Regions from separate parts of the Homo sapiens genome. Here region 2 is linked to region 1. Evidence: fine-mapped expression QTL. Tissue or cell type: whole blood. Region 1 holds a variant in brackets; the other region holds the start of a gene. All regions are shown on one strand. Distances are from middle to middle.

What was found. PIP is the estimated chance that this variant, and not a neighbour inherited with it, causes the effect.
Region 2: TUFM starts here. The variant in region 1 is fine-mapped to the expression of TUFM in whole blood (INTERVAL, PIP 0.97).

Annotation. Positions count from the first base shown.
Region 1 is chr16:28,873,068-28,880,128 of GRCh38, forward strand. SH2B1 (SH2B adaptor protein 1) reads left to right here. Exons shown (of 8, transcript NM_001387430.1): 8 at 380-1,138. The coding sequence ends at 753. It overlaps ATP2A1 (ATPase sarcoplasmic/endoplasmic reticulum Ca2+ transporting 1), which reads left to right and starts at 5,421. Exons shown (of 23, transcript NM_004320.6): 1 at 5,421-5,722; 2 at 6,032-6,049; 3 at 6,434-6,516. The coding sequence starts at 5,605. It overlaps ATP2A1-AS1 (ATP2A1 antisense RNA 1), which reads right to left and starts at 6,854. Exons shown (of 2, transcript NR_046290.1): 1 at 6,475-6,854; 2 at 5,890-6,037. RefSeq lists enhancers at 886-1,386, 1,387-1,887, 4,392-4,461, 4,472-4,561, 5,807-6,580 and silencers at 6,651-6,700, 6,721-7,061. The variant C/T (reference allele first, on the strand shown) is at 4,021.
Region 2 is chr16:28,844,024-28,849,996 of GRCh38, forward strand. TUFM (Tu translation elongation factor, mitochondrial) reads right to left here and starts at 2,325. Exons shown (of 10, transcript NM_003321.5): 1 at 2,195-2,325; 2 at 1,889-2,083; 3 at 1,291-1,457; 4 at 928-1,032; 5 at 675-839; 6 at 396-528; 7 at 207-311; 8 at 1-78. The coding sequence starts at 2,246. It also overlaps a transcript of SH2B1 not described here. RefSeq lists an enhancer at 2,187-2,676.

The sequences.
Region 1 (7,061 bases):
TGATCCCCTTCCCTCCTCCCTCAATGTCTCATGTCCCTGTCTGATCTCTCCCTTTCCCCTGCCCCACCGTCCCATCTGTCCCCACGTTGCCCCTCCCCCCAGGCCGGGAGCAGGCTGGGAGCCATGCGGGGGTGTGCGAGGGAGATGGATGCCACCCCGATGCCTCCTGCACCCTCATGCCCTTCGGAGCGAGTGACTGTGTGTAAGTGTGGTCCTCCTCTCACCACCGCCCATGATCCATCTTCCATGGATGGGGGGTTGCTCAGGAGATGGGATGTGGGGAGACAGCCACGCTCCTGGGGGGCTGAGTGAAGGGGAGGCCACGGCAGGAGCTCACCTGCCTCCACAATCAGTCTGTTTTCTTACCATTCCTATCCAGAACCGACCACCTCCCATGACCCACCCCAGCCCCCTGAACCCCCTTCATGGACAGATCCCCCACAGCCTGGGGCAGAAGAGGCGTCGAGGGCGCCAGAAGTGGCGGCAGCAGCAGCCGCAGCAGCCAAAGAGAGGCAAGAGAAAGAGAAAGCGGGCGGTGGAGGGGTCCCGGAAGAGCTGGTCCCCGTGGTTGAGCTGGTCCCCGTGGTTGAATTGGAAGAGGCCATAGCCCCAGGCTCAGAGGCCCAGGGCGCTGGGTCTGGTGGGGACGCGGGGGTGCCCCCAATGGTGCAGCTGCAGCAGTCACCACTAGGGGGTGATGGAGAGGAAGGGGGCCACCCCAGGGCCATTAACAACCAGTACTCCTTCGTGTGAGCCAACCCCACCCGCTCCACCCTTTTTAAACCCCCCAGCCCTGCTCGTGAGATTGGGCTGGGTAGGGACAGAGGAGGCCGAAATCCCTCCCCCATGCTTCCTGACCCTTGTTGGCCAAGGGCATCTTTGATGGTACAAGCAGAGGCTCGGGAGAGGCTCCCGTCACACACTACAGGTCCCCTCCCCAGGGCAGGGGATTTGGGCTCCATGAGCTCCTTGAGGGGCTCTTCTGGTCAGCCCCACCCTGGGGGCCATTTCCCCATTAACTACCCCCAGCCCGAGGCAGGGTGAGGGGGAAGGGCTGTCAGTTACATTAAGGTGGTTGTTGTTGTTGTTTTAAACAAAATGGAGAAGCATAAATAAATAAAAAGGTTTATCTCGGTTCTATCGTGATGGCTATGGCCATTGTTTGCTGTGGGGACTGGGGACAGTTGGGTTGGGAAGGCAGCCCACTCAGTGCCCACAGGCCAGAGGGCTGGCCCAGGCCAGTCCCCATCATTCTGCAGTGCTGTGCTTTCGGAGCCATCCCTGTGTCTGACAGCCTTGTTCGTGGAGCACTAAATGATGCTCTTGGGGTCTCCTGCGAGTTTTTGTCATGGGACAGTGCTGTGAATGGCAGGCATGGTGATCTCCAGCGGCCCTTCCTGAGTTATGGCTTTGTACCCTAGAGAGAGCTGGCAGTGAGAGATGGGAGGCACGGTGGCTGTGCTGGAAGAGATTGAACGTGGCAGTCACAGGGTAGCCGCAGAGGGGCCCAATGGCCCCCTTCTCAAAGCCAGGCTGGAGGGATGGCAGAGGGCACTAGCTTCTGTCCTGGCCTTGCCACTCACTGGCCTGGGCAAGGTGTAGCCACGCCGGGCCTGAGCATCCTCATCTGTGACATGTGAAGTTTCATCTTGAGTCAGAGCTGCTGACATGGTTTGCTTGGCCTGGACATGGTGTCCATTTGAGTTTCACATTAAAAATTCAGATCACAGGCCAGGTGTGGTGGCTCACGCCTGTAATCCCAGCACTTTGGGAGGCCGACGTGGGTGGATCACCTGAGGTCAGGAGTTTGAGACCAGGCTGACCAATGTGGAGAAACCCCGTCTCTACTAAAAATACAAAAAATTAGCCGGGTGTGGTGGTGCGCGCCTGTAATACCAGCTACTCAGGAGGCTAAGGTAGGAGAATTGCTTGAGCCCAGGAGGTGGAGGTTGCTGTGAGCCAAGATCGCACCATTGCACTCCAACCTGGGCAACAGAGCGAGACTCTGTCTAAAAAAAAAAAAAAAAAAAAAAAAATCACTGGCTTCTCTTAAAAATCAGAAGATCCAGTGATGTGGGTCCACTTCCACATCTGCCCCATCCCCACCAGCTCACTTTGCTCCCTGGGAGGGCCTGGCCCTGTGGGCATTTGAGTTTATAACACCACCCCCATTGTGGCACACCCCTCCACCCCGTAAAACACAGGCTCTGCTCTTGGAATCAGTCTTCCTGATCTGTGGCTGTGCCCTCCAACAGAGGGCACCCCTGGGCTTCCCAGCTCTGGGGGTAGTGGGTGCCAACAAGGAGGGGCCTGGGGCTGAAGAATCCCACCCGCTGAGCTCGGCCTTCTCCCTTCCCCACTGTCCAGCTCCGCCTTTCAGCATCCTGCCTCACTCCCCGCCCAGGCAGCAAGGAGCCCACACCCTCATGCCCCTCAGCTTCAGCCCCCACCTCCAGGAGGCCCTACCCACGCTCATGACCTTGCTATTCTGGGCCTTGTGTCCTGTAGGGAGATGGACAGGAGACAGCTGGGCTTCCAGGCCACCCAGGCGGGGGGCTAGCCGAGGGAAGCCTGCTGGCTCTCCTGCTTGCTCTAATTTCTGGGGCTCCCCAAACCTTGGCCTCAGGAGACTGGGGATAGGACCGGCCTTGAAAGTGGGGGAAGCTTTGGAGAGCCGGGTGCTGGGTTCTTAGTGAGATGGCCAGTGAAGGCTGTGGTGCCCCGAGGTAAGCAGGGCCTGATCCCCTCCTAATCTTCCAGCAGCAACTGGTGCTCTGAGGCTCCCCCTCCCCCAGCCCTGCCAGCCTTCAGGGACCTGCCTTCCAAAGATGGGCAGGGGAGGGGGACGAGGACACCCACCCACTCCTCAGACCAGCATGTCTTGGCTGTTGGGGCCTGAGAGACTTTCCCTCTAAGCCTTTCTTTACAGATGGTTAAACCGAAGTTCTGCACTCATCAGGGACTGGCCAGGGTGTCTCTGTGTCCCATGCTTTTAGCTCCAGCCCTCAGGTGTGACAGGAGGATCACTTTCCATCCCTGGGCGTGGAGACCCCTGTGGGAAGGGATCCCCGAGGGCGCCTCTGGCTCAGCCTCCCTCCATGGCAGTTCACACCCACAGCCTTCCCTAGAGCAGCCCTTCTGCAGCTCCTGGCGGGTGGCTTTCCCTCCCTGGCTTGTTTCCCCCTCTGGGAAGCCGGGGGAGGTAGAAATGAATAACCTTAAAGGCCTGTTGGCAGGAATGTGCTGCCAAGCCTGCCCCCTGCCCTCTGTCTCAGGCTCTCGACTCCCTCGAAGCTGCCCATCTCTCCGTCTGCCCCTCTCCATGTTTGGGCATTCCCACTGCTGTAAGACAGTAGCCCCTGTCACTCCTCCAGGTGCCGGTGGGGAGACGCCGGCCAGCGCCAAAAGCCTTGGCGGGTGTGAGCCTGAGTCCAGCGGAGACGGTGGGTGCTGGGCCGGGTGGAGGTGCCGGGGGCTGTGTCTCTTGGAAGAGAGGCTGCTAATGCTCTCCTGCACCCCCAATTCAGCCCACTGTCCCCCACTCCCCTCAGGTCACAGCAGGATTCTGCTTCAGGGGAGGGGTTTGTTGGAACTGTGAAAAGGAGGCAGGAAGGAGCACCTTGTCCTCAACTCACCCAGGAGGCCGCGCCTCACCCAAGTCCAGGCAGAAGGGATGCATCTGGGAGGCTGAACCCTCAAGTTCCATCCACCCCTGCTGCCATCCCCCTCCCCAAAAGTGGGGGCCTCCCTTTTCTTTGCTCTGCTGTCTCCTATTCTGTCCTCTGCTTCGGAGTTTGAGCCCCAGAATGGAAAGCAGCCTTAAGAAGCCACACTTAGGAAGTCCACATGCCTCTGCTCATTTCAGGAAACAGGCCTAGACAGAGGACGGACTTGAGCCCAGGGCACCAGGCCCCTTCCCCTCACTGACCTTTCACCCTGACTCTCATCCAGCCTTTCTGCCTGCCTGTCCTCCCCTTCCTGCACCCCTGGTACCCTCCCTCGGCTCCTCCAGCAGCTGCC[C/T]TGGTGGTAACCAAGAGACGCCCCCATCCTGGAGCAGGGGTGGGGAGGGGCAGCTCAGAGCAGCTGCTTCTCTGAGGAAGCTGACACCAAGGCCAGCATTCAGCAACAACTTGTGGCTTTGCACCCAGCGCCGGGGTCCCCGCCCACCTGGCTCCCTGCTGTCCCTCTTCCCCACTGCTGCTCGGACTTCCCTCTGACCCTGGTGGCTCTGTGTCTCTGCTCCCTTTCCCCCTAGGTCTAGACATCTGTCCTTATTTCCCCCAGACCTGTCCCCAGAAGTCCACCCTTCCCCATTCCTTTGGTCTGGAGCCCCTGCTTGGTCCAGCTTCCCCAGGCCCCGACACCTTTCTGTGGGGTCTGCCTAGCTCCTGCACGCACACAGCATGGGCCTGATCCTGTTCCCCTCGTGGACAGATGCAGCAGGGCAGAGTGCAGCGCAGACCACAGGCCTCTGGGGCTGGCCACAGAAACCCCGTTGGTTAGAGCACAGTGTGGGATGAGGTGACCCTCAGTGCACGACTTGGGGTGACCCCTGCCCCCATCCTGAGACAGTTACCCCTCCCCCTCTGCCATCAGCACATTCTGTAGCCTCTTGGGTTACTTGGCTGCCTTGGTGTCCCATTTTCTTGGGGGTGGGGTGGGGATTCCCTATCCAGGATGGGGGGGCCCTCAGGGCTCTGTTCCCAGAGGCTGAGTTAGAGCGATGGGGAAGGGGGGGGGCAGTTTTGGGGAGAGACAGGCAGTGCTGGCTTTGCTCACCAGGGCCTGGACACTAAATCCCTTGTTGATGGCTGTGGCAACCCCTCCCTAGGGTAGGGTTACCATCTTCGGCCCTGTCCCCTTGACTCTCTCCCCTCACTTCCCCTTGTCCCTCTAGGAGCCACTCACTTCCTCTAGCCCCCAAAAGATGTTCTCCCTTCATCAGTCCCCCAAAGGCTTGGGGTATCTCTGCCACTGCTTCAGCAAATGGGGTGAGGAGGAAGGAGACTGCGGCAATGGAAACAGGCTCCGGGCAGATGAGGCAGGAAGGGGGGTGTGAGGAAAGGGACAGGTGAGGCCGGGGATGGAAGAGGGCTCCGGGAAGAACTGGGGGGATGAGTTTGGAATGGGAAATTCAATGCAGCTGGGGAAGTCGAGGCAATGGGGGGGCAGGGTCAGTAGCAGATGACAGAAAGTGAAGTCTCTCCCTACCCCACTTCCCTGGGGCTGGGGCTACCTTTGCGTCCCTCATGAGTGACATCTCAGGCTGCAGCCCCACTGTTCCCCCTCTGTCAGCAGAAATATCTCTCTTTTCTGACCACCTCCTGCTGGAGTCTCAGCCAGCCAATCCCTGATCTGGTGGAGGGGGGAGCCCGGCCTCCCCCTGCTCCCTCATAAGGACCAGCTGGGGGCCGGGGGGTGGCCGGCTGCTCAAGTGGGACGGGGGTCAGAGCTTTGTGGAGGGAAGAAAAACCTGGAGGGGGCAGGAGAGTAAAAAGAAGAAACCCAGGCAGACAGGCAGTTGGACACACTGAGGAAGACCCCCCACGAGTGGGAACCCCCTGGAAGGAACACACCGGCCCCGGCCCCCAGGAAGGGAGCACAATGGAGGCCGCTCATGCTAAAACCACGGAGGAATGTTTGGCCTATTTTGGGGTGAGTGAGACCACGGGCCTCACCCCGGACCAAGTTAAGCGGAATCTGGAGAAATACGGCCTCAATGGTAAGTGTCCCTTGGAAGAGCGGCTGGTAATTAATGCCCTCCTGCACCCCCAAAACACACGCACACGCATGCACGCGTTTCTCCCTTCAGGGTTTCTTAAGGAAGAGCTGGGCCGTTGTCCAATGCTCGCAGGGGGAAGAAGATACTGAGAAAACAGAGTCCCGAGATCCAGAGTTTTGGGAGGTTTTAATGGGATGAACTTGATGAACCTCAAGGTGGCCTGATTCTCTTAGCCACAAAGTCTTGGGTGTGGGGGGCATGAGGCTGAACCCCAAATGAATCTGTCCTTTTCTTCTTTTTCCTGGGTAGAGCTCCCTGCTGAGGAAGGTAAGTTACTGGAATCCCTGAACTCTCATAAATGACCACCCCCCACCCCGCCCTGTCCCACTCCCTCCTCCCTGCCTCTTTAGATTCTTTGAGCAAATATCCCTTCCCAAAAGGCAAATCTCCCTCCCTAAAGGTTAGAGTCCTGTCCGGGGCAGAAGTCTCCCAGGCGCTTTCTCCTTGAAGCAGCCAACCCTTGAACTGCCCCCCACTTTGCCGAGTCTGTTTCTGGACTCCAGGCGAGCTTCTTAGCCCTTCTCTGGGCACCAAGCTGTCTGCCCACCACCCTAGAGCCTCCCCACTGCAGGCCGGAGTCCAGGGCGCTCCATCCCAGACCTTCACCCACTAGACCTTAACCCGGGGCCCTCCCCTTGCCTCCTCCCCCAGGGAAGACCCTGTGGGAGCTGGTGATAGAGCAGTTTGAAGACCTCCTGGTGCGGATTCTCCTCCTGGCCGCATGCATTTCCTTCGTAAGTGTGGGAGGGTCTCTGGGGGCTGGCTGGGGGTGTGAGGCTGGGATCGGGCGAATGCGGGGCTCGCAGTCACTGGATCCTCCCGTCCGAGTCCCGAGCATCCCATTGTACAGACGGGGCGGGCTGGCGCGCAGCAGCGGGTGTGATTCGCGTCCTCCTCTCTCCTCCCCTGCACCCCAGAGGCAGGTTTTATTTTAAGCTTTAAGGGTGTTCTCAGCCAAAACACCGAAGCTAAGCCACCCTCGCGGCTTCAAGAGCTTGGAGAGCTCGGGTTACCCACCCGAACTCCGGGCTCCGGGTCCCGCCGCGATGCCGGCTGCGGCGCGGGGGGCCACTGCCACTCCCGGCATGCGCCGGGCGGACGGCCGCTCCACCAATCCCCGCGCCCGTCGGCGCCCCTGCCCCGCCCTCCCCAGCCTCCTGACGCTGATTGGTCGAGGGGAGGACTCGCTCCTAGTGGCGGGAAAGCGCGGCGGTGTGATGATGACTCCAAGGAGCCCGGCGCCCGGTCAGGGAGGGCACTGGCATCCCTCATTACCCGC
Region 2 (5,973 bases), 30 kb before region 1:
GCTTCAAGCCTCGGACCAGGGCCCCGAGGTTATCTCCGGCCTCGGCCCTCTCCAGGCTCTTGTGGAACATCTCAATGCCTAGGACGGAAAGGGAAAAGGAGCAGGGAGAAGGAAGGCGAATGTGAGACAGAGGGAAGGCACAAGGGATCTGCCGGGGTAAGGCCACCCTTCAGCCAGGCCCTGCTCTCCAGACTGGCTTCCCAAACCTGTCACCACAGTGCGGATGTTCTTGCTATGTCCTAGGAGCTCACACTCGTCTCCCTTCTTTAAAATGCCACGCTCTAGTGTACCTGTCACCACGGTGCCACGGCCTGGGAGGGAATAAGACAGGATATCAGGGACCCCGAGCTAGGCTTCTGCTAGAGAGAGTGCGTGGGAACAGACAGAGTCCTCACCAGGGACGGAGTACACCGCCTCCACAGGCAGCAGGAAAGGCTTCTCCAGGTCCCGGGCGGGCACTGGGATGTAAGTGTCCACAGCATCCAGTAGCTTCTGCACAGACTTCAGGCCTAACTCAGGGTCCCGACCCTGTTGAGGGGAAGTGCCAGGACTCTGAAATCCCCATTCTACTTCCCTCGATTATCAAGAGCCACTTCCCAGACACAAAGCAGAGCTCTGGGTGCCCATCCAGCCCCACCCTCTGCAGCAGCTGCCCTGCCTGACCCCGCGTTCACCTCAAGGGCACAGAGAGCAGAGCCTACGATGACTGGGGTCTCCTCCCCTTTATAGCCAAACTCGGTGAGCAGCTCCCGGATCTCCAGTTCCACCAGTTCCACCATCTCAGAGTCCTGGACAGCGTCAGCCTTGTTCACATACACCACCACATGCTCCACCCCAATCTGTAGATGCCAGAGAGACAGGGACAATATACAGAGGGGCCCAACTCCCCACTCTTCCCTTTTGCATCCTTACCCAGGCTCTGAGTACCTGTCTGGCCAGTAATAAGTGCTCTCGGGTCTGGGGCATGGGGCCGTCATTGGCTGCTACCACCAGGATGCAGCCGTCGAGGGGTGCAGTGCCTGTGATCATATTCTGGAGAGGAGAAGGAAAGGAAACAGCCAAGTTCAACGAGCTCTTCAGTTCACATCCATATAGCCAAGTGTAGCAGTTAGAAACTCAGGCCCACCTTTCTCTACCATCTCCTCACCACCCATTCTGCGTGGCCAAGACCACAAACCTGCCATCTCATACCCAAACACTGAATATCTTAATCTCCTCCCCACAAGCCTAACATTTATCCTGACAAGAGGCAGCTTCTGGCCCTGTCTCCAGTGTCCCAGCAACCCTCACCTTAACATAATCTGCATGACCCGGGCAGTCTGTGTGGGCGTAGTGGCGGGCGGCAGTGCTATACTCCACATGAGCCGCATTGATGGTGATACCCCGAGCTCGCTCCTCCGGGGCATTGTCAATCTCCTCGTACTTCTTGAACTTAGCCCCACCTCCCTCAGCTAGAACTAAAGGAGGAAAAGAACACACCTCTCAGCTAAAGTTCCAGTGCTAGAGGCAGAGCTTAGACCACGCCCCTGAACCCTCCCACCTAAATACATAACCTCCTCCAATCTCTAACTCTTCCAGCAGAGAGAACTGTGGGTCAGAAAGAAATGTTAGAGGGCCTTAAGGGTCTGCCCTGTGACTTCTTTAGGGTACAGCCTCTGCTTGCAGAGCATTCCCCACGACTTTGTGATCCCCAAGCCATTGGTGGATCACAAAGTTCTTCCTGTTCAGGAGAAATTTGTCTCTTGCATCTCCCAATCCACCTGTCGCACAAATTCGGGCTCTTGGGGCCACAGTAAACTCCTCCAGCAGACACTCTGCTGGCCTTGCCTCCCTGGCTCCAGGTCCCATCAGTAGATAGGGCGCTGCTGGACGCCCCAACCCCACTCACTCTTCGTGATGGCTGCAGTCAGCGTGGTCTTCCCGTGGTCCACATGGCCGATGGTACCCACATTCACATGTGGCTTGTCGCGCACGTAAGTCTTCTTGGCCTCCACGGCCAGGCCGCGGCACAAGAGAGGCAATGCCGGGGCTTTCAGCAGCCGCAACAGACCCTGCAGCAGGAAGGTCCGGCCGGCGGCGAGACCTGCCGGGACCGAAGCTTGGAGTCAGGCAGGGAAGGGGTCAGACCGAACCCAGCCACCTACCACTCCCCCAAAGTGTTCCTGGGCCGCCATCGCCCTCCCTGACCACTCACCGCTGAAGTGGGGCGTCGCGCGCAGCAGGGTGGCGGCCGCCATTGTGGTCATACTCGCGCCCCGGTAACCGGGGAGCCGGGACCAGGAGCCCGAGCGCACAGAAGAAGAAGGGCGCCTGCGGCTGGAAGGCACTTCCGGCGGAAGTTAGAGCTGGGAGGGCAAGTCCGGGCCCCTCTAGCCGCCAGTGTCTATGGCCGTCTCAGCCGACGTCGGGCGCGCGGCTGAAGACGTCATGGAGGGGGCTGGTGTCTCGAGGGCGGAGTATGATGGAGAGGTTTTCCACCACTCGCGCCTCTCGGGCTGAGGGGCAACGTAGTTCTCTCTGGCGGTCGCAGGGGGCACTGAGGAGCGTCCCCTAAATCACCGGCGCCGCGAAGGCTCATGGGCGTAGTAGTTCTCAGGTCGGCGGGCTGTGGAGGTGATCAGAGTGGGAGTCAGGCGGGCTAGGCCGGACCCGGAGGGAGGGGCTCGGGCTCCGGGAGGCAGCTGCGGCTCCGACTGCTCAGGAACCTCCTCCTGGGCCCGGCAGAGAGAGACCCCGAGTCCCCCGGAGTCCGACTCGCTACGCGGGTCTTGCGAGATATCTGGCCGCCTCTGCCGCAGCTGGAGGTAGGGGACCAGGTCCTGGACGCCTTTCGGGGATGGGGTGAAGTGTGACCTCCCTCTTCGCTGAGACTTTGTTTTCTAATCTGTAAAATGGGAATAGTAGTATCCACTTCATAGGGAGAGCCTGACATCTAGCCCTGAGAGGAGATGAACTGGGTAGGAGTCAGTGTTGGGCCCTGTGAGGTCAGGCAGCTTGCGGGGACCCTGTACTGCTAGACCTCACAGGGCCAGAGCCCACAAGACAGACAGCTTCGCTGCCCACCCCTGTAGTCCCTCAGCAGCCTAAGGAGCAGTTCCGTTGGGCATCGCCCCACCCATCTAATTTTGCAGATGAGGAGCCAAGGATGAGGAGCCAGCTAGGGGAGCCTTTAAGGGGAGCCTGAGTCTCCTTTAATCTGTCGGTGTCCCCAGCACCTAACAGGGTGGAGCATGCAGTGAATGTTGAATGAATGGGTGCAAGGGTAGTCAATGTCCCTTAACTTTCACATCCATCATCTCATGGCAGCTTCCACAGGGCACTCCAAAGTGTTAATTATGGCTGCTTAACCCTGGCTAATGTTTCGGAACTCATCAGATCCTGAGACTCAGTGGACAGTGTTTGTTTCAAATAGATTCCCTAATTCCTCCCCTGGAGGTTATGATTCCGTGGGGTCTATGCACAGACTGGGAAGCTATATAACAAACACTCTTCTAAAACTGAGAAGAGGCTGGGCACGGTGGCTATAGTGCCAGCCTATAGTCCCAGCAGTTTGGGAGGCTGAGGTGGGAGGACGGTTTGAAGCCAGGAGTTCAAGACCAGCCTGGGCAGATTAGGAGACCCTATCTCTACAAAAAAAAATTTAAAATTAGCCAGGCACAGTAGCATGCAGCTATAGCCCCTCCTACTCAGGAGGCCGAGGCAGGAGGATCGCCTGAGCTCAGGAGTTCAAGGCTGTGGTGAGGTATGATCATGACACTGCACCCCACCGTGAGTGACAGAGAAAGACCCCATCTTTTTTTTTTTTTTTTTTTTTTTTTTGGAGACAGAGTCTCACTCTGTCGCCCAGGCTGGAGTGCAATGGGGCGATCTCGGCTCACTGCAACCTCCACCTCCTGGGTTGAAGCAATTCTCCCACCTCAGCCTCCTGAGTAGCTGGGACTACAGGCATGTGCCACCACGCCTGGCTAATTTTAGTATTTTTAGTACAGATGGGGTTTCACCTCGTTGGCCAGACGGCTCTCGAACTCCAGACCTCAAGTGATCCGCCCATTGTGGCCTCCCAAAGTGCTGGGACTACAGGCGTGAGCTACCACGCTCAGCCAAGAAAGACCCCATCTCTATAAAAATATTTTGGCCAGGCGTGGTGGCTCACACCTGTAATCCTAGCACTTTGGGAGGCCGGGCGGGTGGATTGCTTGAGTTCAGGAGTTCGAGAACAGCCTGGGCAACACGGTGAAACTCTGTCTCTACTAAAATACAAAAAATTAGCTGGGCGTGGCAGTGTGCACCTGTAGTACCAGCTACTCAGGAGGCTGAGGCAGGATAATTGTTTGCACCCGGGAGGCGGAGCTTGCAGTGAGCTGAGATGGTGCCACTGCACTCCACCCTGGGCGACACAGCGAGACTCCGTCTCCAAAAAAAAAAATTTTTTTTCAAATGAAAACTCAGAGGAGTTTAGGAAACTCTGAACTAGAGCTTTATGATGTTCAGGCATTCCTATTGTTTCACAATCAGCGCTCCCAGTGCTACCCTGGGTAGTAGGAACTATTATTTCCTCCATTTTGCAGGTGTGAAAACTGACGGTCAGGGTGATTAAGGAATCCACCACCACTAAACCCCAAAAAGTGTGCACACCGCACTGTCCTTTTTTTTTTTTTTTTTTTTTTGAGACAGAGTCACACTCTGTTGCCCAGCTGGAGTGCAGTGACACGATCTCGGCTCACTGCAACCTCCATCTCCCAGGTTCAAGCGATTCTCCTGCCTCAGCCTCCCGAGTAGCTGGGATTACAGGCGCCTGCCACCACGCCCAGCTAATTTTTGTATTTTTAATAGAGACGGGGTTTCACCATATTGGCCAGGCTGGTCTTGAACTCCTGACCTCAAGTGATCCACCCACCTTGGCCTCCCAAAATGCTGGGATTATAGGTGTGAGCCACCATGCCCAGCCAGACTGTACTATAATTTAACTCTCATTTTACTGCTCAGATAAAGTGAGGAACTTGCTAAGACTTCTCTCTTCCTGGCCCTCCAGTTAATCAGTTCTGCTTAGGAAAGGCTGGTATCATGTGTAGTATAAACAGATTTTGTTTTTGTTTTTTTGACAGAGCCTTGCTGGGTCTCCTAGGCTGGAGCATAGTAGGGCAGTCACAGCTCACTGCAGCTTCAGCCTCCCAAGCTCAATCTACCTCAGCCTCCCAAATAGCTGGGATTACAAGCATACACCACCACACCTGGCTAATTTTTGTATTTTTTGTAGAGATGGGGTTTCGCCATGTTGGCCAGGCTGGTCTCCCAATACCGGGGCCCAAGCCGTCTGCCCACCTTGGCCTCTCAAAATGCTGGGATTACAGGCATGAGCCACTGTGCCCAGCCTAAAAGGGTTTTCTGTTTCTACTCTGTACCTAAGTCACTGTACTCCTAGGAATTTATCCTAAGACACTATTGGCCACTAGCAAGTTATGAGTTTTTGGGGGTGGTATTTGAATTAATGGTTTATATTTTTGTGGTGCTATATTTATTTTAATGTGTATTAGCTTGAAAAAAAACTGGCATAATAATCAAGTTTTTAAAAAAACAGATCAACTTAAAAGAATATTGTTTGGTAGATAATATTATGGATGCACTGGGCACAATGGCTCACACCTATAATCCCAGCACTTTGGGAGGTCGAGGCAGGCGGATCACTTGAGGCCAGGAGTTCGAGACCAGCCTGGCCAACATGGTGAAATCCCGTCTTTACTAAAAATACAAAATTACCTGGGCATGGTGCACGCCTGTAGTCTCAGCTACTCAGGAGGCTGAAGCAGGAGAATCGCTTGAACCCAGGAGGCGGAGGTTGCAGTGAGCCGATATCACGCCATTGTACTCCAGCCTGGGTGACAGAGCGAGACTCTGTCTCAAAAATAAAATAAAAACTATTATGTGTGGTATGAATATATGGCAAATTTTTTGGAAGGTAGTGAATGAATGGCT